Homo sapiens: one gene and its partners. The protein of the gene in region 1 interacts with the protein of each later gene in a biochemical or structural test. Each region holds a gene or a part of one and is shown on either strand. Other genes may lie near its edges. The genes, in order: SIRPA, SOS1, CCT6A, KRT2, CDK16, DDX10 and DDX6.

Region 1 (4,486 bases):
TGAAGGACAGAAATGGCTTCCATTCTAATCCATTCAAGGGTTCTACTATGTACAGGGCATCAGCCACATTGATAACAGGTGATGAAATATTCCATGGCTGCACTGAAATGCCAATCAGGTGCCACCATTTGAAAACAAAAGAGATGTACACCAACACCACGTTGCAAGGGCTGAGAAAATGATACCTTGACACCCTCACACTCTCTCAGGGGAGCGACAGCATTATCTCCTCCTTACATGAGTATGCATTTTGGCCTAAAGTGTTCCTTGGGCAATCACACAGAAATAGTCACATGTGGGATGGAACATGCACAAGGATGTTCACTGAAGCACTGACTGTATGTGAGACAAGCTGCAAACACCCTGAATGACTCCACCCTGGCTTCCAGTGGGGCAGGCTCCCAATGGCAGCCAGGGAGATGAGGCAGGGGCTAGAAAGAGTAGGGAAGAGGGGCTGGGCCAGTGAGGAATGGGGAGCATGACAACTGTCAGGTGAAGAAGGCAAGAGGCAGGACACCATGAACAGATGGGCCCCCTCTCTCCCTCTTTCCTCCTGTGATATAAATCTATGTCAAAAGATCTATCAAGATGTGCATCAAACTCTTACCAGTGGTGACTCTTGGAGTGTGGGATTTGGGGAAATGGAGCTGACATTAAAATTCTACTTTATATTTATAGACTTCTAGATTGTTCTATAATAAGCATGAATTACTACTTTTAACATTTAAAAAACCCACAAAACTAAAAGTTTAAAAAAGCTGGGTCAGCTGAAATAGAGGCCTCACCAGCGGCGGTATTTGAGCCCTGCTCCTTCGGGTGGGCTGAGACCTTCAGGTCATGGCTTTTGCTGACCGCTGGCTGCCCGTCATGCTCCACCTGGCAGGTGAGCTTCACATCATCCCTGTGGGCAGATACATTCACCAGGAGCCAGCTCATCCAGTTGTAGGTACCATCCTTGTTCTCTGTAACGGTTGAGGCCGTTTCTGTCCGGGACACGTTTCCATTCTCCAACCAGGTCAGCTGTAGTCTCTGGGGGTAGAACTTCCTCACCTGGCAGGTGACATTCACCTGGTTCTCTGCCCTCACGGGCTGTTGAGTAACCTCCAAGGTGGGTGGAACTGAAACAGCACAGGGCAGAAGCTCTGACCTTGTGGCACAGACAGATCACAGGGAGGGCTCCATAACGTAGCTCCCCCACCACGGTGAGGTCATCACCAGGACAGAGCTAGGCAGGCATCAGGTGCTCAGACATTGAGGGTGCTCTTTGCATATGAATGAAATTACTAAGCACAACGCCCAGCACACAGTAGGTGCTCAAGGACTGGTAGCTCCTACTAGGCTAAGAATGAGGGAAATCTATAAGCACCACCCCTGGCATGCAGTTGGAATGTTGTAACTGTAGCAAAATAAAGAAAATCACCAAGCACATAGAGGCTTAGTTCATAGTAGGTACTCATTAACTGTGTTTGCTATCAGTGAAATAAATGAAACGGCTAGCACAGTCCTTGGCACCTGGTGGGTGGTGTGGTCACCCAGCCACTGCCATTAAAATGTTAGTAAGTGGCTGGCACATCTAGGGGCATGGGAGGTGGGCAGTTAGGAATTTAGGTTCCAGGCATTTCAAGCCCTGGAGCAAGAGTAGAGCTGGATGAGTGGAGGGTGGTGGGGGGTGGGCTTGGCGGTCAGGTGTGGGCTTGGGCTGGGTGAGGGTCTTCTACCTCGGATGGTCTCAGACAAGTTGGCAGTCCCACGAAGAGGGTCCCCCTGCAAGGTGACGTGGGCCACCTCGCAGATGACTTGAGAGTGAACGTCCTCGCGGGTCAGCACCACCTTGGCTGTGCTGTGGATGCTGTAGGACACGCTCTCTCCTACGGGGTCCACGTTGGTCTGGAAGTCTGAGAGCTCATTCCCATTTTTGAACCATTTCAGGGTGATGTCTCTGGGTGAGAAGCCGTGGGACTCGCAGGTGAAGCTCACTGTGTGCTGAGGTGTGGCCCTCGCCGCAGGGCCCGATACCACGGGGGCAGAGGGTTTGGCTACAAAAGGACCATCGATAATCAGGAGACATGACTCAGATGACAATCACTAACGATAAGTGTGTGACACGTTAAGAACCTTCTGAGACATTATTTTTTATCCTTCCAATAATGTGGAAGGATTAATGAGGGCGGTGTCCTTATTGTCATTTTACAGAGCAGGATGCAAAGGTTGGGAGAGGTGAGGACCCATGTGAGGTCAGACAGTGTAGGGGCAGGGCCCAGAGGGAAGTCCAGGCCTGAGTTCAAACTTCTCCACTCCACACAGGGTGACTTCCAGCAATTTGGGCACAGGATCAAAATTAACGATCCATCTCATCCTTGGTATTAACTGTTTCTACCCTGCCTCCCCTGGCAACAGTGCCAACCTCAGAGAGAGCGTTTATAGAGGTCAGTGCAGGGAGTAAGCAGCAACGTGGCATCACCATGAGAGCTGGAACCAGGCCGCTCAGCCCATGAGAGGGGCGGCCTGGCACACCCAGCTCCTTGTCTGTAAAATGGAACAGCAGCATTTCTCCTTTCTGGGATGCAGCGAGGATTAAATGAGGCAACAGAAGCAGTTTTGCTTTGGATAAACACAGAAGATGCTTCACAAAAATAAGCAAAAACAGATCTAACTTTAACCCAGACTTTATTCATATCCAAAGCTCTCTCTTCAGGTATTTATGAATTTACTTCATATTTTTCATTTTCTCCACAAATATTCCAGCAGGGTCTAATCTGTGCCAAGTGCTAAATTTGAAAGGAAGGGATACTTTTCTGAATCTGCGGTCTTCTTTGGTGTCAGTTTTAGATAGACACTAAAGATCACCAAGTGTGGAGAAAGCCAAAGTGGTTAATTATCAATTAATTACACAGACACAGGGCGCCCAAGCAGGCAGAAGCACTTCCTGGGTCCTGAAAGCACACACATGGCTGAATCAGAACGCGGGCTGTTTCTCCCTGCAGATGGGTCGTAAACGTGTCTCCAAATTGCTAATCATTACCCCATACCTCCTATCGCAGTCACCAGGAAGCACATATCACACATACTTGCATTTGTAAATATTAACTTCTCCCTCACACCCATCAAACATTTTGAGGGCACAGTAAGGAGGGTGTCACTTGAAGAAGTCAAGTCATTGAGGCCAGCGGCCTGGATGTCCCCACAGGGCTGAGGGGCTGCAATCAGTTCCCATTTATCCAGGGCTTCTCTGGAGCTGGACACTGGCTGCTCCCTCCATGCCCGTCAGCTCTTTAATCCTCACTCCATCTCTGTGAGGGGATCCTCGTGTGAGCCCCTTTTAGGACAAAGCTCAGAGAGGCCCAGGGCCAAAAGTGGATACAAACCCCACCCTGTTAAGAAGAGGGAGGATGAATGCAAGCACAGAGCCTGGTATGCAGCAGGTGCTTAATAAATGACCCCTGTGACTGTTATCAGGAGGTCTGGTCATTACTGCTTCCGAATCTACACATTTATCCTTCAGGCAGCAGAACAAAGCAGAGCAGAAACACCAAGAAAAGGCTCAAACCCTGCTCCCTGTGGCTCATGACAAACCCAAATGATACAAGGAGCAGAAACCACCAAGTGAGGATTCTCTCCCCTTTTCTAAACAATCCCCTCAGGAAACAAGTTTGGCGAATTGGCTTTCAAAACACAAGATCACAGGCGCCTCCCTCCAGAAGAGCCATTTACAGAAGCTGGAAGCATTTTAAAGGAGGAGGGAACAGACTCCTCCGTGACATCTTGGTGTGTCGAGGCAGGGAGGGTTCTGGGGCCGAATTGGAAGGATTTGCTGGGATTCCGGCGGTCATTTAGACAAAAACATTTTCAGGATGGAAGGTTTCCCCACACTGAGGCTGGATCTGAGCAGGGCTTTGTCTGGGGCCCCTACCTTGGCCCCCGAGGCCTGTATCATAAGAGGGGGTCTGGCCAGGCCACTGGGGCCTCCAAAGAGCTGTCCCGGGTGCACGTTGTTCAGAAGCATCCACACCCTGAAAAGCTGTTCTCCCATCTGGCACCCCAAGAGGACCATCTTTTCCAACTTGTCCTCCGTGACCTCTGGGTGTCTATCCCAGGGGTTTTCAGTCCTGACTCTGTATTAGAATCTTCTGGATTAATTAAAAACTTTAGATGCCTAGGCCCATGCCAGGCCAATTGAAGAGGCATTTCTGTGGTGGAGCCTGGGATTTATTTCAATGTTTCCCAGATGATCCTAAAGAGCAGCCAAGATTGAAAACTACCTGAGTACATCCTAAGGACCATTTATCCTTGAGGCCTGGAGGAGCACTAACCCATCTGAGGTTGCATGGCTTCAGCATCACACAGCTCACATCTGTTGAACATTGACTGCAGGCCAGGCGCCTGCTGCCCTAAGCACGCTACAGGATTTAACTCATTCGGTCCCAACTCCTGGTCTGTGAGGTTGGTGTTATCACTGACAAGTGAGGACACTGAGGCCCATGGTGGT
Region 2 (4,486 bases), on another chromosome or scaffold:
CCAACATGGCAAAACCCTGTCTCTACTAAAAATACAAAAATTTTCTGGGTGTGGTAACACGCAGCTGTAATCCCAGCTACTCTGGAGGCTGAGGTAGGAGAATCGCTTGAACCTGGGAGGTGTGGAGGTTGCAGTGAGCTAAGATTGTGCCACTGCACTCCAGCCTGGGAGACAGAACAAGACTCCATCTCAAAAAAAAAAAAAAAATAATAATATGATTCCCTAGATGAGTTTAAGTACAATCTCATATGGTAATATAATCTCAGGATTTAGTACTTTTTTTAAAACTATTCAAATAAACTGCCTTTGTACAAATGTAATTGTTACTATTGCACATTATTATTAAATAGGCACTCATGAAAAGCATGGTATTGAATATCACTGGTAACAAGAGGATGCTGCTTTGTTGAGTCTCATTTACATACTAATTGCCACTGCTTTGTCTCTGTAGCCACAATAAGCCACCCTTTTGATGGTAGTTAGCTTGAATTATATTGCACCAGTGCCAAGTTTAAATTAGCTATGTTAAGTAAAAGAAGCAAAAAGTGGTAGAAGAAAGGTCATTTATTACACTGAAATTTATTTTAGAGGCTTGCCTAATGCTATAAAGGTAAAAATGACATTTTAAAAGTATTTCATCAGGAAAGTTTTATGGGTTTGAAATGTACTTTGGGTTTGTGGCTTTTAAAATATTAACATTTTTGAGATACCAGAATATTCTGTATGTAAAATGCTACAGTTAAATAGTAGATAAATGATTCCAAAACTTGAAACATTTTTAGGATAGAAAATCAAAGGATGTCCAAGTGGATTTTTTCTTTTATAAATATTTTTATGTGTATGAGAATTATATATTTTGTCTACCATTAGGTATGTTTTCCTGAATTAAAAATATAAAAAATGTATCCAGGACAAAATATCAAATGCTCAATATTCTGCTACCTGTTAGTTATTTAAGACCGAAAAATTGCCTTGTATCTTACTGACTTGAATTTCTCTGGGCTTTGCTTTTGAGTGATTAAATTCTCAATCAACTCAGTGAACTAATTCATCGTTCAGTGGTGCTTTCATTAAATTTGCCTTAAGGTATACAGCAAGCTTGTCTAACCCCCGGCCCAACACAAATTTGTAAACTTTCTTAAAACATTATGAGATTTTTTTGCAATTTTTAAAAAGCTCATCAGCTCTCGTTAGTGTTAGTATATTTTATGTGTGGCCCAAGATAATAATTCTTCCAGTTTGGCCCAGGGAAGCCAAAATATTGGATACCCCTGGTATATAGCTTTCAATGTTAGATTATCTGCTGCTTTAAAGACTAAACTTGATAATGTTTAATGGTAACATTTTATTTGTCTCCCAGAATTCTGCCATGTGAGAGGCAAATAGTTTCAAATGATAGGGATGGAAGGTACTTTGAGAGATTACCTGGATTCCAGCCTTCAGCCTACTAGTAATATCTGTTAAGTAAAAACCTAGTATCTTTCTTTATGAACCCTGGCCATTGGCTTTCTTTAATCTAGCTGGCCATATTGAAGAACAATATTATGAATAAAAGATATTTGATTTTTGTATTAATATGTACACTTTTAAAGTCTCTTATCCTTTGGAAAATATCTTTCGTTACCCTTTTTATGTTGAGAATTGTTAGGAATAAATTTTTCTGTTTTTTTTTTTTTTTTTTTTGAGACGGAGTCTCACTCTGTTGCCCAGGCTGGAGTGCAGTGGCACGATCACGGCTCACTGCAACCTCTGACCCCTGAGTTCAGGCGATTCTTCTGCCTCAGCCTCCCGAGTAGCTGGGACTACAGGCGTGTGCCACCACACCCAGCTAATTTTTGTATTTTTAGTAGAGACGGGGTTTTACCATATTGGCCAGGCTGGTCTCAAACTCCTGACCTCGTGATCCCCCCGCCTCAGCCTCCCAAAGTGCTGGGATTACAGGCATGAACCACCGTGCCCAGCCTAAATTTTTCTTTTACTTAACACAGTTAAGACTGAAAATTTTCCTAAAAATGTAGATTATGCCTCTAGTAGAAAGTATGGTGAGTTTTTAATAATGAATATAAGAAATCTGGATAATAAAAGCTAAGTATTAAACATTACAATATGGTATTCATTACTTCTAGAATATTTGACCATTAAAGTATTTTAAGTAAATTTTAATAAAAATGGTTTAGAATATAAGTAAGAAATCTGTTTACTTTTCACAGGTCATCAGTGCATGTGGTATGTGCATGCGCATGCATGTAACTGATTTTTATCAATTGAAGCAGAAAGGAATGTGTTGTTGACCTTTAAGGAATACCTGTGAAAAACACAAAATCCTTAAAGTACTAATGTACTAATGAATACTTAAGCTAATTGAAAAGTAAACTTCTAGCCAGGCATGGTGGCTTACGCCTGTAATCCCAGCACTTTGGGAGGCCGAAGCAGGCAGATCACTTGAGGTCAGGAGTTTGAGACCAGCCTGGCTAACATGGTGAAAACTTGTCTCTACTAGAAGTAAAAAAAAAAAAAAAAATCAGTCAGGTGTGGTGACAGACACCCGTAATCGCAGCTACTCGGGAGGCTGAGGCAGGAGAACTACTTGAAGCTGGGAGGCAGAGGTTGCAGTGAGCTGAGATTGCACCGCTGCACCCTAGCCTGGGGTACAGAGCAAGACTCCATCTAAAAAAAAAAAAGAAAAATAAACTTCTTTATAAATCACTTTGAATATTTCATGATTGTGTATCTCAAGTCTTTTCATTCATGGTAGAGAGTAGGTATTCCTAAATTGTTGGATGAAAACTCTATTGATAAAATGTTATTTTATTTTATTTTAATAGACGGTATCTCAAACTCGTAGGCTTAAGCGATCCTCCCACCTGGGCCTCCCAAAGTGCTGAGATTATAGGCATAGGCCATTGCAGCCAGCCAATATGTGATTTCTTAACTTTTCCTTTTGGTAACCAGGAACAGGTTTAAGATGTATGAGTGAATTATTGTGACTCATACATCTGTTAAGTGCTTGCTTGAATCATAGCCACCTTACTGTATTGACAATTAGTTACTGATGACTTAGTTCTTGTTAAGTAGAGACGTTCTGTCTGACACAGATATTTGCCAGTAATAGAAAATATGCTTGAGTTTCAGTTTCATAAATATGTATATTATAGCTTCACTCAAAATCTTAATGTGGATATGGACAAAGTTCTTTATTATACTAATGTTAATTCTGTAGTATAATTACAAAGAAAACCATTTACACTTACATTGTGTGTTACCATTTACAAAGTGCTTTGGTTTTTAATAACAACCCCTAAAAGTAGGCAGGGTAGGCTTTTTATAAGCCTTATTTGGCAAATGGGAAAAGTAAGACTCAGAGATCAAGTGACTTGCCCCAAGGTCACACAGAAGTAGAGTCAAAATTTGATCCTAGATTTTGTAATTGAGATTCCTTCTACTATATTGCATCGTTCTCTGTATATTTATCTTCCTTATCATCTCAATATTATATAACAATAATATAGGGGTCAGAAACCTAAGACCAAATTCCACACTTAAAAAAAAAAAAACCTCGTCTACATGCTTAGTGGTATGCTAACTCTATGATAATTCAGTAGATCGATTATGCTCCCCATTTCTTTTCAGTGGTATGCACCTTGAAAAACTACATATTACTGCCTGTCACAAGATATAACCCATCTTAACACTGCTAATCTTGGTCTTTTAATGTAGAAAACTTGGTTGTGTATTAATAGTAACACACAAGAAAAACACTTTTAAAAAGAATATTTGATGACACATTTAAAATTTTTATTGTGACAGTTGAATAAATGTTATTTTTATCCTTAAATGAGTTTATTATTATTTTATCCAAAAATGTACTACTGGTTCAGATTTGTCATTTTGGCTTTACAGCAGTTAGAAGAAAAAAGTGAAGATCAAGAAGACAAGGAATGTTTAAAACAAGCAATAACAGCTTTGCTTAATGTTCAGAGTGGTATGGAAAAAATATGTTCTAAAAGTCTTGCAAAACGAAGACTGAGGTGAATATTTTTACTTTTTAAAATATCCTTTTTTCCCTGAATATTGTGGTGTAAATTCAGGGATCCCAGTTCCCTCCTCAAGTAAACAATGAAGAAAATAGTTTTAGTGACAAGCCTGGTCTTTTAGAGGAAGTGACATCAAAGCCAAGAGAATTGTTATTGTTTGAAAAACCTTTCATATTTGTGCATTTTCCTTGCATACTCCCAGACAAGACCTCCTGAGAGTCAACTGGTAAGCTGAAGGAGAGACAGAGTAAAATGTATCGGGTAGATTTATGTTGGCATCGTTATTCTGTCAAAGTAAAATTATTAGTGTCCTTTATTTTAGGGATTATATAACTTGAGGCATTAATTCAGATAACATTGCTTCCACTTTCCTGATTATAATATGTGCTACATGTTTTTAGCTTTGGGTCTTGTCCATTTAAACTCTTCTAAATAATTTATTTTAATCTTTC
Region 3 (2,725 bases), on another chromosome or scaffold:
GGTTTTGACCTTCAGGAAACATTAGTTAAAATTCAAGCAGAACATTCAGAATCAGGTCAGCTTGTGGGTGTGGACCTGAACACAGGTAAGAGAATGCAACTGTTGTAGAGGGAAAACTAGATGTAATACGTGTGAGTTGAAGCCAGGAAAGATTAAAAATGTTTTGCTTTGCAATTTGACACCAGTGCTGTTAGGGAACTCTGGGTTCTAAAATGGGATAAAATAGGATATTAATAAAAAATGGAATGACTAGGTATAATTAAGGGACGAGTAGACATGAGTAATTTGGGGATACAATTTTGGAGATGTTGAGTGGTGGTAGATGGTTCAGATTAATGTTGAAGGATTTTCATATTGCATTTGCCTTACTCAGTTTTTAATCAAGTACTATGATAAGAAAATAGATGTGGTGATTATATTCATGGGTGAAAACCAGCTAAAGATAGCAATTAATGCCAGAAAAGGGGATGTAGAAATCTAGTGAAATGGTGACAGCCCTGATCTTAGGTTCCTGTAACAAAACAACACAAATTAAGTACAAAGTAGGAGATAACAGGTACCTCCATGCAGTATGTGCAAGACCTATTGTCAACATTAATAGAAAAGGTTTCTGGAATGAGGGAAATGATCAGTCCATTTTAGTCAGATTATAGTTGAAGTGCTATACTTCAGTATGAGTAAACAGAAATGTATCCAGAAGAAGAGAGGGGTGTTCAGGACTTCTAAGTATAAGTCAGACATTCATCAAATATTGTGGACGGGGGTCATGGTTTAGAGTAGAAAATTGGGCTAACAGAGAAGCTTTGAATTCTCATAGTTAATACTGGAGGAAATGAGTCATCAGTGATAAGCAAAGCTGCACACAATATTGTTGGTTCTTACTGACTGAACTTATTTTAAGATTTGGTTGCCTTTTAGGTGAGCCAATGGTGGCAGCAGAAGTAGGCGTATGGGATAACTATTGTGTAAAGAAACAGCTTCTTCACTCCTGGTAAGTTTGGGAAAATGAAAACTAAACTGTTAGAGAATCATACTTTTTTCATTTGGTGTTCTCTGTTTAGTTGCTCCTTTCCCCCATGAATAATGTGATCAGCTGGAAGTATGGAAACTGAACTAGCCCTCTGATGTGTAGAGGGGAAGGGGGAAATTTAATTGGATGTAATGTGTGCAGCTTGGTTGGAAGTGGGAAGTTGAGTCGAATTAGGGCTCCTAATCATCTGAGCCATCTTATTTTTGTCCCCCTTTCAGCACTGTGATTGCCACCAACATTCTCTTGGTTGATGAGATCATGCGAGCTGGAATGTCTTCTCTGAAAGGTTGAATTGAAGCTTCCTCTGTATCTGAATCTTGAAGACTGCAAAGTGATCCTGAGGATTACAGCTGTGGAATTTTTGTCCAAGCTTCAAATAATTTTGAAAGAAATTTTCCCATATGAAAAAAGGAGAGAACACTGGCATCTGTTGAAATTTGGAAGTTCTGAAATTATAGTATTTTTAAAAATTGCACTGAAGTGTATACACATAAAGCAGGTCTTTTATCCAGTGAACAGGATGTTTTGCTTTAGCAGCAGTGACATAAAATTCCATGTTAGATAAGCATATGTTACTTACCTTGTTATTAAATATTTCTTGAAAAGCAAATTTTAATGGTTTAATTTTATGTGGACGTATGTTAAATTATCCAACTACCCTATTGTTAAGCATTTGGTTTTAAAATTTTTATGCTAATATAAATGCTCAAGTAATTTAAAATATTGAAAGCATCCCTGTTGGTATAAATTTCTGAGTAAATGCATTGGATCAGTTGGACTTTGAACGCCTTTGAAATGGCTTTGCTAAAATGCTCCCGCCACAAAGTTGTAGGAAATGGGAAGAGGAGTCAACTAGAGGCAAGGGAGTTGAGAGAGCTGCAACTGTAAAGGGCAAGAACAGGCAGAGGTAAAAAGATGATGGAAGGTGTGGTGACTAAGGGCCACGGTTATTGGGTGAAATTTGAGATTGTAGGCCAACTGTATTTTCAAGCTTCTGAACTTAGGCAAAATATTCATCGCAAAGTCTCTAGCGTCATATTTTTCTCACCCAAATTACGTTTCCACGAGATTATTTATATATAGTTGGTCTATCTCTGCAGTCCTTGAAGGTGAAGTTGTGTGTTACTAGGCTGTGTTTTGGGATGTCAGCAGTGGCCTGAAGTGAGTTGTGCAATAAATGTTAAGTTGAAACCTCCTTTCTGTTCTTGCAATGGTATGACGCACAAAAGCAATCTTAAGGGGAATGAAAACTGTCCAAAGGTTCAGAAAAGTAGTGAAGGGGCCTCTGGAACGGCCGGGACCCTCAACGTGGTTTTCCTTAATTCCCTGGGCGGTCCTGAAGGTGGTGTGGCCAGTCCTCCGCCTCGCTCCGTCAGTTTCCCCCTGCTGAACTATTGGGTGCGGGGCGGGTGGTGGCGCAGCCTGCGCATGTGCATAGGGGTCGACTGCCGCTGCGGTGCATGAGGGCGCATGCGCAGCGGGGCCGTGGGTGTACGCGGCGCAGCGCGGCAGTCCTGATGGCCCGGCATGGGTTACCGCTGCTGCCCCTGCTGTCGCTCCTGGTCGGCGCGTGGCTCAAGCTAGGTCAGTGAACCGGCCGTCCATCCTGGGGGCGCTGGGAAGGGGATGGGGCGCTCCGCCCTGACGGGAGAGAGCCTTAGGCCCTTCTGCCGGCTTCCGGGATGCGGCTGCAGC
Region 4 (3,563 bases), on another chromosome or scaffold:
GCTATTCCCAAAGCCTTTTAAAAAATGAATAAATTGGGAGTGGGAGACCTGGTTTCTGTGTCCACCCTGGGCCTTACCTTTTTCCTCACCTAAGTGAAAAGTTCAAATACACTGATTACCAAAGCTCCTGTCCAGCCTCAAATGTCTGGGACCAAGTCCCTGTTAAAGGTTGTGTTCATGTCTACACTATGTACATACCCGAAAACAGCCAGCTCCTCACACCACTTCTTCCCAACCTGCACCCTCTCCCCACAGACCTCTCCCCACGACTGAGGCCTGGGTGGTTCTCAGGGACCTTCTCTGATCAGCGGATCACTTTAGAATGCTCAGCCTGGAGTCTTGCCACCTTGCCACCTGCAGCCTTCAGAGCTGTTCCTGCAGCACCCTCATACCTGGGTCCTGGCTGGTCTGGAGGCAAGTGAATGCATCTGTTCTCTATTAGAGCCGTCCCTGCAACCTCTGGGAACAGGAAGACGGTCACAGACTCAACTAAGGACTCTCCAAGGTTTTAAAGCTGGGGTGGAGTGGGAGAAAAAAGGACCCTCCAGGAGTGGTTCTGAGTGGCTTTAAGCCACAGCTACTATAACCAAACGCCACATACAGAAAGCTAAGCTGACCTAGCCTGAGCCACCAACTCCCATTTGGGCAACTCTGGCCTGTCTAACACCAACCCCAAGCATGCCCAATCCCACCTGCCCAACCATTCCTGAACTCCCTGGAAGCCCTGCTCAGGTGACATGGCCTTCCTGAGGAAGGGGCTGAAGGCATCTTCACACCCACAGGAGAAGGCCAACCTGATGGCAACATCCATGCGACAGGCCCCGGGGGCTGCGGTGAGAGAGGAGAGAAGGGCTTGTTTGCTGAGTGTGGTGGGACTCCGCTGACAGGAGGGGTGTCCTGTGAAAATAGAAGTGGCTGTTTTGGAGGCCACTTTAGAGTCCTCCAGACTCTTCCCAGGTATCCTCCTCCAGGCTTGCTCAGAGCCCCCGCAGAGACAGAGGCCAGGACCTACATCAGGCTGAGGAAGGTCTGCCTTGGAAGCTCGGAGCTTGGAAACTCACCACGATGGTGCCAGGGGCTCAGCGGTTTTGCCCTGAGGAGAAGTGATCCCGGGCCAAAGCCTTTGTGGAAAAGGGAGAGGGCAGTCTGTGGGAAATGCTCAGGAAGAATGGGTTTTTCTAGAAAAGAGACTCTTCCACAAATCTACCTGTCCACCTCCCGGCAATGCCATGGCCCTCAAGTCTGGTAAATACTTTCTGAGAACCACACACCCATCCCCAGGCTCCCATTCATCCAGAGGCTGGCGCCTGGGCTTCCCTCAGGGAGGCACGCTCCTCACCCAGGAGCCCCTCCTTAATGCCCAAACCTCCCTTGTCCATGGCTGCCCACTTCCACCAAGGTTTGACATCACGCAGACAGCACATGATATGAATTGCAAATGAGGTTTATTATGAAGACCCCCAGACCACAGCACTTCCGAAAGCAGAGTGGACAAGAGGAGCTATATACACAGAAACACATTTCCCCCCAGCACTGCCAGGCTTAGAGATGAAATCCCTGGATGGGCCTGGGTCCTCAACAGAATACACATCTGGAAAATGGGCAATGCAAAGAGGCATGGTGGGGGCGGGAATGGGCATGGCTAGAAGCACAAACCTAGACAGCACAGATTCCGCCCCAGAACACAGAGGCGTCACTGGCTCTAACTAACTGGTTTGGAGAGAAGATCTTTCAAAAACTGTATGTGGACATTCTTTTCCCTCAAAGTGCCATCAGAGATAAATGACAAAAATTTAACTTGCTGCCAGTTAGAGGTACAGAGACAGGCTTCTACATTCTGGAGTGGGAGAGTCTGGGTTGGGAGAGTCGGTGGTGGTGGGGGCTCATCTTTATCTAAAAGAGAAGGTCACGCTGGAACCAAAAGCTTCACCTGAGCTACCCTTTACAGAGCTAGAACCCCCACCTCCAGAGCCATATCCTCCTCCAGAGCTGGAGCCTCCTCTAGAGCCACCTCCAGAGCTGTGTTTTCCACCTCCAGAGCCATATCCTCCTCCAGAGATGGACCCTCCCTTAGAGCCACCACCAGATCCGTATCTTCCTCCAGAACCACCGCCAGAGCCATATCCTCCTCCAGAGATAGAACCTCCTCCTCCACTACCGCCTCTGGAGCCAGACTGTCGGCCTCCAGAGCCATAACTGCTGCTTCCAGAGCTGTATCCTCCTCCGGAACTGGACCCTCTACCTCCAGAACCTCCAAAGGCAGCCTTGGATGCCACATTTGATGAAATGGTGCTGCTTGTCACAGCTGCAGAGAGAGGTGGTGTTACCACAGAGATTATGACTGCCTCTCCCTGCCTCCACCTGACACAACACCCCATGGAACAGGACCACACCCCATTACTTACACACAGTCACATTGCTGCTGAGGTCTCCAGACATCCTGTAAGGGAGAGAGAAAAAACAAGTTGTGGTGGAACACTTAGGTTCTGTATGCATGTTGTTTTACCACTTCCACCCGCAAATGTGCAGTTTAGCCTCTCTAAGCAGCCACCAGGGCTTACACACCCCACTTTCTTCTATGCTGCCAGGTCACACAATGACGACAGACCCCCTTCCATTTATGCACAACCTTGCATGTCAATCCCTCTCAATTTTTGCTCTGATAAAAAATGAACAGTTGCGTGGTTGATCCAAGGTCACTGAAAAGCAAATTCACTTCCTACTTTGCAACCCATTTGTGTATTTAAATCCATCTTGGAGAGTCTGTTATTCAGAATCCATGCCACATCAGAAATTATACAATGAGGCTGCCTGTGAACATTCAGTTCAGAAAGAACTGTGACTCTGTAGAGCCTCCCCATTCCTCTCTTCTTCCCACCCTCTTCAGCTTCAACTGAAAACTTTCCCACTTCCTCTTACAAGCTGGGCATAGGAGGCATTGCCTCTAGACAGGGACAGAGCAACCTCCTGAAGAAAGCCACTCCCTGTTTGTCATGCTGGCTTGCTGATGGCCTGGGGTAGCTTTTCCCCTTCCAATTGCTTCAGCCAGATTAAGTCACCCAAGATGCTGATAATACGGACAAAGGTCTCAGACTACAGAGGAAGCAAAGGGTGCCTCTTTGAAAGTTAGCAAATGGTTCCATTTGTCACTCCAGAAACCTGCAAAGAACTGGGGCTGGCACCTGCTCCGGTCAGCACGTCCCCACCAGTCAGCACATTCCGAGACATCATCTCCCCCATTCTGGGTCACCCGGTGGAGGGCACAGAAGCCACTCACCCTATGGACCTAGAGACCAAAGTTTCAGACTGTCTAGGACTAACCTGTTTTCCCATGATTTTGTTTTCTCTTTCAGAAAAGACCAGGATGTTTAACTTACTGCTTAGTTTAATTTAATGTGCCTTATGCATCATTTCATGTTGATAAATGTGTAACTCTCCAATCATGCTTTATGTCCTGAGTTTCTGCTTGGGGAACACAGAGAATGTCAGTTCTCAGTTGTCAGGAGGGCCTGCCCCATTCTCTGCTTTCCCTGTCTTTGCCTCCAGCCCTGGCTCTGGGAGAG
Region 5 (3,500 bases), on another chromosome or scaffold:
TGGTTCTAAGACCCCCCAAAACACTCTGGCTTTCATGGGAATGCCTGTCACCCACATATCCAGGTAATAATCAGGGTAACCAGGAATCTGTTCCCATTTGGATAAAAGGTAGATGAATTGCAAACCAGGGTTTGGTTCTGAGAACACCCCTGAAAGTGCTCACCAGTTTATTTACTGTAACAATTTCTAGTCAGAATATCACATGGAATGAATTTGAATTGCACTGAAATTTAGTGTGCAAATTCGATTTCACGCGATGCTGCAGGCCTATGTACTGAGGGTTGGAGCCAGGCCCCTTCCCAGAAACCAAAAACAGGTTGTGAAAATCTAGTGTCACATGAGCCTGGGGCTGCAATCCCAGGTTCTTGCTCCATACTCTCCTCTGAGTCTTATTTTCCACATCTGCAACATGGAGACACAACTTTCTTCTGGCATGAGGCGGGTTAGAGCTGGTGGCTCCGAGGCATTACCCTGAACTGTCTAGAGAAAGAAAGAAAACCTGGGCTTGTCCCTTTCTAGTCCTTGTCCTCACCTCTGTCCTGAGGGTAGGACCCTGACTCTTCCCCTGTCCCACTCCCATGCTTCCTGCAGTGTCCCTGCTCAAGGACCTCAAACACGCCAACATCGTTACGCTACATGACATTATCCACACGGAGAAGTCCCTCACCCTTGTCTTTGAGTACCTGGTAAGGTTGAGTGGCAGTAGGTCCCAGGGGGAGGTGAGGAGAAGGCCAGGAGCCATAGGAAGTAACCCTCATTCCTGTACCACCTCTTCTTTCCTCAGGACAAGGACCTGAAGCAGTACCTGGATGACTGTGGGAACATCATCAACATGCACAACGTGAAAGTGGGTGTGGGGCAGGAAGCAGGGGCACAAGGGGGCCCCCACTCACCCACTCCAACCCACAAATCTCCCAGAAACGGACTTTTCCCTTTGGCTTTTTTTGCTAGGAGCCCTTGGAGGGCACTGGGACCCTGTCCTCTTTTGTGTGACAAGGCTCTGGGCCTAGTGTCTGTGTTTGGGAGGGGAGCAGTGCCTGCTGGGGGTCGGGCTAGTGGATAGTCTTTGACCTCTGCCTGCCATTCCTGGGTCCCCAGCTGTTCCTGTTCCAGCTGCTCCGTGGCCTGGCCTACTGCCACCGGCAGAAGGTGCTACACCGAGACCTCAAGCCCCAGAACCTGCTCATCAACGAGAGGGGAGAGCTCAAGCTGGCTGACTTTGGTACCACTGGCCTCCCCTTTCTTATTGGCTCCCCAGCCTCCTACTTTCCCATGACCACTTAGTCTCACTTCCCTTCAGCCTTGCCAGATTTTGCCTAGGACACCCTCAGTCTCAACTGCACTCTCCCCGAGACTTTGCCCATGACTCCCTCATTCTAGCTGTCCTTTCTCTGATTTCCAGGCCTGGCCCGAGCCAAGTCAATCCCAACAAAGACATACTCCAATGAGGTGGTGACACTGTGGTACCGGCCCCCTGACATCCTGCTTGGGTCCACGGACTACTCCACTCAGATTGACATGTGGTAAGGACAGGTGGAAGTGTGGCAGGGGCCATGTGGTAAAGGGGGTGGCTTGGTCACAACAGCCACCCAGCCAGCTGCCTTTCTATTCACTGTGCCCTCCCTGCCCAGGGGTGTGGGCTGCATCTTCTATGAGATGGCCACAGGCCGTCCCCTCTTTCCGGGCTCCACGGTGGAGGAACAGCTACACTTCATCTTCCGTATCTTAGGTGAGGAGGCATGGGCCCTAGGCGCTGTGGAGACACACGGGGAGGACCTGTGAAATGTTTGGGATAACTCCTCTTCCCTACTAGGAACCCCAACTGAGGAGACGTGGCCAGGCATCCTGTCCAACGAGGAGTTCAAGACATACAACTACCCCAAGTACCGAGCCGAGGCCCTTTTGAGCCACGCACCCCGGTGAGGCTGGTGGGTGGGTGGGCGTTAGGGGCCAGAGTGTCCAAACTCATTTTAAATCAGGTCTCTTTGTCCTTGTGGCAGACTTGATAGCGACGGGGCCGACCTCCTCACCAAGCTGTTGCAGGTGAGACCACCTTGGGTCAGCCTTGGGGGTATGGGATTCCAAGTGTGGGGAAACAGGGACCCCCCCCCTCAAACCAGGGGCAGGGTCTGAGGTGGGCAGAGAGACCTACTTGTTGAAGATATCAATACTATCCCCCTCCCCGCACCCCCACTCAGTTTGAGGGTCGAAATCGGATCTCCGCAGAGGATGCCATGAAACATCCATTCTTCCTCAGTCTGGGGGAGCGGATCCACAAACTTCCTGACAGTGAGTGGAGCTGGGGAATGGACCGGCCAGCGTGGGGACTGGGAAACAGGACTGCTGGGGCCAGCTGGCGGGTTGTGTAGGATTCTGGCTGTGCCACCTCTACGTGGGGGGACATCTTGTTCACGTGTGTGATGGGTTGTATTTGTTATGAAAACATTTTTTAGTTTTCAGTTCCTTTTACCTTTCATGAAAAATTTAAAACATACATAAAAATATATGCAATAGCACTTTACTTTTTTTAAAGTAGACATTTCCTTACATGTGCTAAAAAATGCACAAATCATAAGTATACTATACAATGAATTTTCATAAATGAAACACATCCTTGTAACTAGCACAAAAGTCAAGAAACAGAATGTTAAAAGCTCCCCACCCCCAGCTCCCTTGCATCTCCTTCAGTTATTCCCAGCCCCTTCCCAAAGGGTGGCCACTGTTTTGACCTCTAACAGCAAGGATAAGTTTTTTCTGTCCTTGTACTTTATAGAAATAGAATCACATGTGATGTTCTTTTTATATCTGGCTTTTAAAAACTTTTTAATATGGATATTTTCAAATATATGTATTTATATATTAGTCAAAGTAATATGATGAGTCCCTAAGTACTCCAGTGAGTCATCAATTCATGGTCAATCTGGTTTTATCTATATTCTCTCTGATTATTTTGAATCACATCCAATCCCAGACATCATAGCATTTATCCTTAAATAATTTCAGCATATACCTATAAAAGATTTTTTTAAAACAACAATATTATTATCAAACCTACAAAAAACATTTGCTCACTTTCCCTATCTTCCCACTGGATTAATATATAAAGCAAACCCCAAACACCACCCATCACCTAGACTTAACAGGTGGTAATTGCAATACCATAATTCACTTGACAAAGTTAATAATGATTTCTTTGTGTCATGTAATAGTCTATATTTCATCTTCCCTGGTTGTAGCTGGTTTGTGTATGGAATTGTTTGACAGATAAAGGTCAAGCCTCTCAGAGAAGGGGCAGCTTTTTCTAATTCTTCCCATGGGGTCATATGGGGCTGGTCCTAGATGACCTCATGGGTCATCCCCCACTTCTATGTCTCCCCCATCTGTAGCTACTTCCATATTTGCACTAAAGGAGATTCAGCTACAAAAGGAGGCCAGCCTTCGGTCTTCGTCGATGCCTGACTCAGGTAGGTATAGCCCCTTGTCTTCCTCCCTGCCCCACC
Region 6 (4,486 bases), on another chromosome or scaffold:
CCTACATTAGATTAAATTTCTAGAAAGCATAGAACTGCAGCCAAATTATCTTTAGGAATGAGATTTTAACTTACGTTTATGACTTGTTGTTCCCCAATTACTTTTCTGGACTTAAAGATCTTGATTAGCAAATACATAAAGAAGTCAATATTTAGTTTTATTTTTCTTAATTGATAAATTATATTTCTGGTATGTAACATGTTTTGAAACAAATATACATTGTGTAATTGCTAAATGAAGCTAACTAGCATAGGTATTACCTCACATACTTGTGGTGAGAAATCTATTTTAGTTAAACTTTTTTTTTTTTAAAGTTTTTAGAATATTCCACAGTAGATTCTTCGGTAAAAGATGTGAAATTATTTTTCATTATGCTTTCCAATCTTTCTAATCTTTGAATTAACAGATATTTGAGTTCTTATCATTTTCACCTGTCCTTTATTGCCATTTATTGCATTTACAAGATCTTTGCATCTCCCATAGCATATCAGCAATGAGCCAGAGAGTAGGGATTCAGAGGTTGGATTCTATTTCAGCAGATAGATGAGGTGGGAGGAAGAATATAAAGAAGAGTTATAGAAAGGTCACCCTAAGTCGATAGGGTAGCCTGAGCAGAAAAACATTCAATAGTTAGGGTTTTATGTAATGGTTTTGAAACTGTTATTCCTGGCAAAGAAGTAAGTTTTTTTGTTTGTTTGTTTTTGATACGCAGTTTCGCTTTTATTATCCAGGCTGGAGTGCAATGGCGTGATCTTGGCTCATCGCAACCTCCGCCTCCCGGGTTCAGGTGATTCTCCTGCTTCAGCCTCCCGAGTAGCTGGGATTACAGGCATGCGCCACCACACCCGGCCAATTTTTTGTATTTTTAGTAGAGATAGGGTTTCACCATGTTGGCCAGGCTGGTCTCAAAACTCCTGGCCTCAAGTGATCCGCTTGCCTTGGCCTCCCAAAGTGCTGGTATTACAAGCGTGAACCACCACGCCCAGCCAGAAGTAAGTTTTATATAAAGAAGAGATCTTAAATTTTTTGCTAACTTATTTTATATTTTAGCAAATTATCATTGGTGTGCTTAGAATAACATTAATGATGAGGCTAAAATTTAAGTGCTTACTGTGTGCCAGGTACTTAGTTATGACAAAACTGTTTTACATGCGTTGTTACCTAATCTTCCAGACAACCAGTGAGGTAGGTGGTATTGATTTGACTGTACAAATGGGTAAATGCTAGCTTGAAAATTAAAAAATGTCTTGGATGGCTGGTTGGGGTGGCTCATGCCTATAATCCCAGCACTTTGGGAGGCTGAGGTGGGTGGATCACTTGAGGCTGGGAGTTTGAGACCAACCAGGCCAACAGGGTGAAACCCTGTCTCTACTAAAAACAATGACAAAAAAATTAGCTGGGTGTGGTGGTGCATGCCTGTAATGCCAGCTACTTGGGTGGCTGAGGCATGAGAATTCCTTGAACCCTGGAAGCAGAGGTTATAGTGAGCCAAGATTGTGCCATTGCACTGCAGCTGGCCTACAGAGCGAGGCTCTGTCTCAAAAAAAAAAAAAAATTGTCTAGAGTAACATAGTTATTAAGTGGAAGACCTGAGACTGAACTCCAGGTCTAGCTTTCTTGAGATCTACTGTGTTATATCAGGAGAAATTAATTCCAAAATATGAGAGCATCAAATGGTAAGCTATACCAAGTTGGACTTCTATAAGCTCACTTTACCTGAGAACCTTTTCATTAAAGGATCTTTGAACAAATGGTTAATATTCATTTTTCTTAAAAATGAATAGGCATGCAAACATGTACATTTTTTTTCTAGCAAACATCCTTCAAACTTGCAGTTGAAACCTAGGAGCTTTGGAAGTAGTACACACATTTAAAAATATTAGATTAATTTTGGTATGTCATGACTTACTGCATGCCTAAGAGGTCATTCAGTTATCTATCAGAAAATATGAAACATTGGAAAGATGTTTTTTCACTGGTTTGTGCATACAACGGATGAGCCTTCCAGAACACTGATTATAGAAAAGTGTGTTGAAATAAATGATGTGATTTATTGGTTGTCACGCATGGTTTAGCAGAATGGCCAACTGTGTTGCCAGCAGCAGCAAGCTATCTAGTTTCATAGAAGTGATTTTCTAGGTTTTGATTATAATCTGGATAGAACAAAAGTGATAAGCAACTGAGGTGATTGCTTGTGGATGATTGTAGGGGAAAAAATTATTTTTAAACTGGTGCCATTCATTGTTTTTTATGCCTATGGAGACAGAAAATGGTTTGGAGATTAGTTGGGTAGAAAGGATTAGTGTAAAGCTAGATAAAACATGAAGTTTAGGAAGTATGCAAACAGGAACTAAATATACTTTACAAAAGTCAACTTAAAAAATTACCTAGATGAGTTTTGTTATCTGTGTATTTGACAAACTGATAAAGGATCAGGACCCTGTTTATATTCTGGTTTGTGTAACTCTAGTATGAAGATAGTTTTTTTTTTTTTTTTTTTTAACAGAAACAAAATATTCCAAGTTAATGATGAATTACTTGAAATCATAAAAAAGAAAAGCTTTAGCAATAAAGTTTTTCCTGAAATGGTTTTATTAAATCTCAATATGTAAAATTTTATTTAATTGAAAACCTTATCTTTTGATACAATAATACAAAATATTATCAATAACTAGCATTTGTTGTTACTATATTCCAGAAAATATGCTAGGTATCTACATGCATTCTTCTAATTTTATTCTCATAACACTCTAAGTAGAAGGTAATGTATCCCTTTTTTGATAGATGAGGATACTGACATGTAGAGAAACAAGAAATTTGCTCAGTGAGTAAGAGTTTAAGCTTTGAATAGATTCCAAATCTATATTATTCCAAAGCCTATATTTTCCCCATGGTGTACCTTATTGTAATGGAATTATACTGACTTTTAGAGTAGCCTTTTGGAAAGAAGATATTCTGGGTTAGGTTGGCTTGAAACCAAATGCAAAGTTTTTTTCTAATATTACAGTTCTAAAAGGTAGGTTTTCATGTGTGCATGGAATGGAGATATACTGAACTATTTCGTGGTTTTTCAGTACTATTGAATTTATCCCATTGGCTAATTTTCTTATATTTTGGTCTAAACTCATTTTTAATTTCTATTATATTGTACTTTTCAACCTCTTAATTTACAGTGTTTCGTCTCCTATGTACGATCTGTATATCTGATGAAGGATAAAGAAGTATTTGATGTGAGCAAGTTACCTATACCTGAATATGCCCTGTAAGTATTCATAATATAGTTGTAATAGTGAATCCTCAAGGTTAGAGGGAATTAATTAATTAATTTAGAGATGGGGTCTTGCTATGTTGCCCAGGCTGTCTCAAACCCCTGTGCTCCAGCAGTCCACCCACCTCAACTTCCTGAAGTGTTAGGACTACAGGCGTAAGCCACCACACCCGGCCAGAGAGAATTTGTTTGAAACCTGGTTCTCTGAGATTCTTAGTTTAAGCCACTCTGCCTTACGTTAAAAGAATCTGTTTGTTAAAGATTCTCAGTGGAAAAGATGAAATTGACTTGGCAGAAAATTAGTTCAGTGTTCAGTTCTTGTTAATCAGGGAGCAGTTTATTATTTGTAAGTATAAATTCCTTAAAGTGACATTGGCCATTTCCTATAGTTTGATCTTAAAGGAGACAGAGAGCAACCAATAAGCATTCTTTGAAATCTTTAAGTGTCTATAGTTTTCTCGTTCTCTGAAACCCTTGCCTGGATTACCATAGACATTTTATGCTTTGAATGTGAGCCTCTTTGCTGATTCTTCTTATGTTAGGTTGTTTTCTTCAATTGCTTACTGCCTGAATATTCCTCCTGTCTTGGTGTTTCTTACAGGTACTCATAGTTACTATGGCAAGATGCTCCTTTTTAGTAACTGAGGTTACTATTGTATGAAACAGAATGGCTGGTTTTGTTTTGGCTTAGTATTTGAGGGATTTTTTGCGGGGGAGGAGACAGGGTCTTATTCTGTCACCCAGGCCATAGTGCAGTGGTGTGATCATGGCTCACTGCATCCTTGACCTCCCAGGCTTAGGTGATCCTCTCATCTCAGCCTCCTGAGTAGCTGGGACTACAGGTGCATGCTACCATGGCTGGCTAGTTTTTTTGTAATTTTTGTAGAGATAGGGTTTCGCCATGTTGCCCAGGCTGGTTTCAAACTCCTGGGCTCAAGTGATCCCCCCACCTCAGCCTTCCAAAGTGCTGGCATTACAGGTGTGAGCCACTGTGCCTGGCCGGGTTTTTTTTTTTTTTTTAAACCTTTTGACCTATAAAGAAGGAATGTTTATTCTTCAGTGGGCTCTTACTGTGGGAGTGGTAAAAACATTGGCACAATCTTATAGAAGCACCTTTGAGATAATCATACTTTGAATATCAGCATGAAATTTCCCAGACTATGGTGAAATATGTGATTACAAGGCAAGGTCTGTATGTTTGGCTTGCTCTTAGGAATT
Region 7 (4,486 bases), on another chromosome or scaffold:
ATATAAAATTATATCTTGATTTTAGTTAGAATATTATATATGATAATTATGTGATACATTCTTTGTATTGCATAGGTTTTTAAAAAATTATCTTGTTTGATCCTTTTAACAATACTCGGCTCACTGCTCTAGATTAGAGGCATTGCTCTTATGTCAGAAGTCTGGTGTGCCTTCTGCTATTAATTGAGAATTATCCTAAGACAAGAAAGTATGCCTACTGTTGAAAGCAGCAGGTGATTTAGGAAGCTGTACCCCACCCAATGTAGAGGTGAAACAAATATTTTTTAAGCATCCTGTGGTGAAATGGAAGTCTTTATCCTAAAACACATCTTTGTGCCTTTTTGTGTTATTTCCACCTCTATAACACAATGTGTTTCTTCTCTTTCTTTCTTTTTTTTTTTTTTTTTAATTTGAGACACAGTCTTACTCTGTTGCTCTGGCTAGAGTGCAGTGGTGTGATCTCGGCTCACTGCAACGTCTGCCTCCTGGGTTCAAGCGATTCTCCTACCTCAGCCTCCTGAGTAGCTGGGATTACAGGCTCCCACCACCACACCCAGCTAATTTTTGTATTTTTAGTAGAGACAGGGTTTCACCGTGTTGGCCAGGCTGGTCTCGAACTCCTGACCTCATGTGATCCACCCACCTCGGCCTCCCAAAGTACTGGGATTACAGGGATGAGCTACTGCACCCGGCCTAGTTGTTTCTAATAAAAGATAGTCATGTGCTGCATACAATGTTGTGGTCAGTGACGGCTGCACGTATGTCGGTGTTCCCATAAGATTATAATGGAGCTATACAATGGAGTAGGCTATACCATCACATAGCAATGCATTTCTCAGAATTATCATTAAGCAGCTCAGGACTGTAATATTATAAACCTTTATCCTCTTTGCTCAAATTAAAATTAATGAGAATGTATGTTTTCTAAATCTTGCATAGTGCACGTGGTGATTGCTACCCCTGGGAGAATCCTGGATCTTATTAAGAAAGGAGTAGCAAAGGTTGATCATGTCCAGATGATAGTATTGGATGAGGTAATGTCTCTTCATTTGGCATTATACTGTTCTGTACTTTTCTGTGCTTTGCTTATAACTGCCAGTGAATGAAGCAAAAGCTGCTTGTGTTTATGATCTAATAAACACATAAACAATCAGTTTAAATTAATTTGCTTATAAAATGTGTTTTACCCGTCAGAGGGAGTAGATTATAGGCATTCATTGGAATTCAGCATTTTGTCTTTTTCTTAGAGATAGCAGACATTAGGTTTTAATTTTTTAGTAGAGGAGTGAATAACCTCAATGCCAAATTTATTCTAAGTCTCTTTCTGCTCTGTGATTAATTTTTAAAAGCATATAATATATATTGTCTCTTCTCATTTTGTGCATACTACTTTGTACTGTTTGGTTTTTAATCTCTGTTACATGTATTATCTCACCATGTTATAAATGCCTTTTAAAAACTTATTAAAATCTGTAGTCCTGGGATCTAGCCATGTTTTGTACATGTACAGATGGTCCCTGACTTAAGATGGTTCACTTTACAGTTTTTCAGTGGAAGTGATAAGCTTTCATTAGAAACTGTACTTTGAATTTTTAAGATTGATATTTTTCCTGGTTAGTAATATGCTATATGATACTCCCATGATGCTGGGCATCAGCAGCAAACTGCAGCTCCCAGTCAGCCACATGATGATTGAGGGCAGACAGCCGATACTCTACAGTATACGGCGTTGCAGGTGATTTTGCCCAACTGTAAGCTAAGGTAAGTGGAGCATGTTTAAAGGAGGCTAGGCTGAGCGATGATGTTCAGTAGGTTTGGGTAATATTTTCAACTTAGGATGAATTTATCAGAACATAATCCCATTGTAAGTCAAGGAGGATCTATAGTGATCAGCGTTGTTAATGTTTTGACATGAGGTTATTTTCACATTTGGGTTGAGGTTTATTATTATTATTATTATTTTTTTTTTTTTGAGACAGACTCACTCTGTCACCCAGACTGGAGTGCAGTGGCGTGATCTCGGCTCACTACAACCTCTGCCTCCCCGCTTCAAGTGATTCTTATGCCTCAGCCTTCTGAGTAGCTGAGATTACAATTATGTACCACCCACGCTCAGCTAATTCTTGTATTTTTAGTAGAGGCGCGGTTTTGCAATGTTGGCCAGGCTAGTCTCGAACTCCTGACCTCAGGTGATCCTACTGCCTCAGCCTCCCAAATTGCTGGGATTACAGGCATGAGCCACCACGCCCGGCCTGGTTTGTGTTTTAGGTAACATGATTTAATTCAAATCAGACTTTTATCTTTAAGTAATGAGAGAGAACATTTATTAATCACTGGGTACCAGCACTAAGTGCTTTACATGGTTTGTTTTTTTTTTTTTTTTTCCATTTAATTTTTACAAGAAACCTATAAGGTAGGTATCCTGTCAAGTAGTTACTATAGTATGTAGACATCCAACTTCTAATTTGCTTATAAAATACGTTTTATACTTCAGATGCAATAGATAGGCATTCATAGGAATTCAGCTTTTTGTCTTATAGATGCCAGAGTTTAGGTTTAATTTTTAAGAAGAGGAGTGGCTGGATAACTTGAAAGTCAAGTTTTTTCTTTTTTGTTTTGTTTTGTTTTGTTTTTGAGACAGAGTCTCGTTGCCCCGCTTGGAGTGCAGTGGTGCGATCTCAGCTCACCGCAACCTCCACCTCCCAAGTTCAAGCGATTCTCCTGCCTCAGCCCTCCCGAGTAGCTGGGATTACAGGCATGTGCCACCATGCCGGGCTAATTTTGTACTTTTAGCAGAGACAGGGTTTCTCCATGTTGGTCAGGCTGGTCTCAAACTCCCGACCTCAAGTGATCTGCCCACCTAAGCCTCCCAGAGTGCTGGGATTACAGGCGTGAGCCACCACACCTGGCCTTAGCCAAGTTTTTTCTAAATCCCGGTAAAGTAGTTACTACATTATGTAAACATCCAAATTTTAATAGTTTTACAATTTTAGAGTTGTGGAAACTGAAGTACAGAGTAGTTCTGTAACATTCCCACACAGCTGAGAAATGAAGGAGGCAAGATTTCAACCTGGCAGTTTAGCTCCAGAACCTGTACTTTTTTTTGAGACAGAGTCTTGCTCTGTTGCCCAGGCTGGAGTGCAGTGGTGCGATCTCAGCTCAACTGCAACCTCCATCTCCCAGGTTCAAGCAGTTCTTCTGCCTCAGCCTCCTGAGTAGTTGGAATTACAGGCGCTTGCCACTGTGCACAGCTAATTTTTGTATTTTTAGTAGAGACAGGGTTTCACCATATCAACCAGTCTTGTCTTGAACTCCTGACCTCAGGTGATCCGCCCGCCTGGTCCTCCCAAAGTGCTGGGATTACAGGCGTGAGCCACTGCACCCGGCCTCAGAACCCTTACTTTTTTTTTTTTTTTTTTTTTGAGACGGAGTAGTCTCGCCCTGTCGCCTAGGCTGGAGTGCAGTGGTGTGATCTTGGCTCACTGCAGCGTCCGCCTCCCAAGTTCAAGCGATTCTCCTGCCCCAGCCTCCCGAGTACCTGGGATTATAGGTGCGTACCACCACGTCCAGCTAATTTTTGTATTTTTAGTAGAGATGGGGTTTCACCATGTTGGTCAGGCTGGTCTCAAACTCTTGACCTCGTGATTCTCCCGCCTCGGCCTCCCAAAGTGCTGGGATTACAGGCGTGAGCCACCGCGCCCGGCCAGAACCCGTACTTTTAAACACTACACCATACTACCTCTTTAATGAGAATCATCACATTAAAATTCTGTTGTGGAGCTGGGCATGGAGGTATGTGCCTGTAGTCCTAGCTACTCAGTAGGCTCAGGCAAGAGGATCACTTGAGCCCAGGAAGTTCAGGCTGCAGTGAGATACGATTATGCCACTGCACTCCAGCTGGGTGACAGAGTGAAATGCTGTCTCTAAAAATAAATAAATTAATTAAATTCTGTTACAGAAAGCGGGGGAGGTTGTCTGTGTAGTGTAGAATTTTTTTTTTCCCCTAGAAGATGGGGATTATAGATTTTGCCCCCTTCTGCATATTTGACTCTCTGCAGTGTTGGAGAGAATTTATTGTTTTCCACCAGGAACATTTCATGGATGCTTTTGTTGGATGATGCCTTATTCTTTGACCATGTATTAACCAAGACCTTAGACATTATTTTATTGTTTTTAAAATTGTCTTTTCTTTCTACTGCAGGCAGATAAGTTGCTGTCACAGGATTTTGTGCAGATAATGGAGGATATTATTCTCACGCTACCTAAAAACAGGCAGATTTTACTATATTCCGCTACTTTCCCTCTTAGTGTACAGAAGTTCATGGTGAGTATAAATCTGTACTTGGAATCAGTGCCATCCTGTGACCTTTGAGTATGCTTTTATTTGTAATTACATCTTCATATCTGTGAATATACTTTATGCTAATTATTTCAAGCCTTTGGCTCTTTCTTCAGTTGATCAATTAAAGATTTGTTTTACGTAAAT

What was found.
Region 2: the proteins of SIRPA (region 1) and SOS1 form a complex in vitro, tested with the Homo sapiens proteins (one large-scale study listed by BioGRID).
Region 3: the proteins of SIRPA (region 1) and CCT6A form a complex in vitro, tested with the Homo sapiens proteins (one large-scale study listed by BioGRID).
Region 4: the proteins of SIRPA (region 1) and KRT2 form a complex in vitro, tested with the Homo sapiens proteins (one large-scale study listed by BioGRID).
Region 5: the proteins of SIRPA (region 1) and CDK16 form a complex in vitro, tested with the Homo sapiens proteins (one large-scale study listed by BioGRID).
Region 6: the proteins of SIRPA (region 1) and DDX10 form a complex in vitro, tested with the Homo sapiens proteins (one large-scale study listed by BioGRID).
Region 7: the proteins of SIRPA (region 1) and DDX6 form a complex in vitro, tested with the Homo sapiens proteins (one large-scale study listed by BioGRID).

What each region holds. Positions count from the first base shown.
Region 1 is NC_000020.11:1,918,945-1,923,430, reverse strand, and holds part of SIRPA (tyrosine-protein phosphatase non-receptor type substrate 1 isoform 1 precursor), read right to left. Parts: intron 2,037-4,486; coding exon 1,719-2,036; intron 1,119-1,718; coding exon 786-1,118; intron 1-785. UniProt on the Homo sapiens protein: Immunoglobulin-like cell surface receptor for CD47. Acts as docking protein and induces translocation of PTPN6, PTPN11 and other binding partners from the cytosol to the plasma membrane.
Region 2 is NC_000002.12:39,023,552-39,028,037, reverse strand, and holds part of SOS1 (son of sevenless homolog 1), read left to right. Parts: intron 1-3,900; coding exon 3,901-4,028; intron 4,029-4,486.
Region 3 is NC_000007.14:56,061,765-56,064,489, forward strand, and holds the end of CCT6A (T-complex protein 1 subunit zeta), read left to right. Parts: coding exon 1-85; intron 86-918; coding exon 919-991; intron 992-1,248; coding exon 1,249-1,321; 3' UTR 1,322-2,225; downstream 2,226-2,725. Other genes in the region: SUMF2 (inactive C-alpha-formylglycine-generating enzyme 2 isoform i precursor), read left to right, coding at 2,548-2,614. UniProt on the Homo sapiens protein: Component of the chaperonin-containing T-complex (TRiC), a molecular chaperone complex that assists the folding of actin, tubulin and other proteins upon ATP hydrolysis.
Region 4 is NC_000012.12:52,643,130-52,646,692, forward strand, and holds the end of KRT2 (keratin, type II cytoskeletal 2 epidermal), read right to left. Parts: intron 2,441-3,563; coding exon 2,406-2,440; intron 2,306-2,405; coding exon 1,890-2,305; 3' UTR 1,429-1,889; downstream 1-1,428.
Region 5 is NC_000023.11:47,225,181-47,228,680, forward strand, and holds part of CDK16 (cyclin-dependent kinase 16), read left to right. Parts: intron 1-591; coding exon 592-686; intron 687-784; coding exon 785-847; intron 848-1,098; coding exon 1,099-1,222; intron 1,223-1,402; coding exon 1,403-1,523; intron 1,524-1,631; coding exon 1,632-1,729; intron 1,730-1,813; coding exon 1,814-1,919; intron 1,920-2,000; coding exon 2,001-2,043; intron 2,044-2,198; coding exon 2,199-2,289; intron 2,290-3,386; coding exon 3,387-3,464; intron 3,465-3,500. UniProt on the Homo sapiens protein: Protein kinase that plays a role in vesicle-mediated transport processes and exocytosis. Regulates GH1 release by brain neurons. Phosphorylates NSF, and thereby regulates NSF oligomerization. Required for normal spermatogenesis.
Region 6 is NC_000011.10:108,716,624-108,721,109, forward strand, and holds part of DDX10 (probable ATP-dependent RNA helicase DDX10), read left to right. Parts: intron 1-3,173; coding exon 3,174-3,262; intron 3,263-4,486. UniProt on the Homo sapiens protein: Putative ATP-dependent RNA helicase that plays various role in innate immunity or inflammation. Plays a role in the enhancement of AIM2-induced inflammasome activation by interacting with AIM2 and stabilizing its protein level.
Region 7 is NC_000011.10:118,759,760-118,764,245, reverse strand, and holds part of DDX6 (probable ATP-dependent RNA helicase DDX6), read left to right. Parts: intron 1-939; coding exon 940-1,034; intron 1,035-4,201; coding exon 4,202-4,324; intron 4,325-4,486.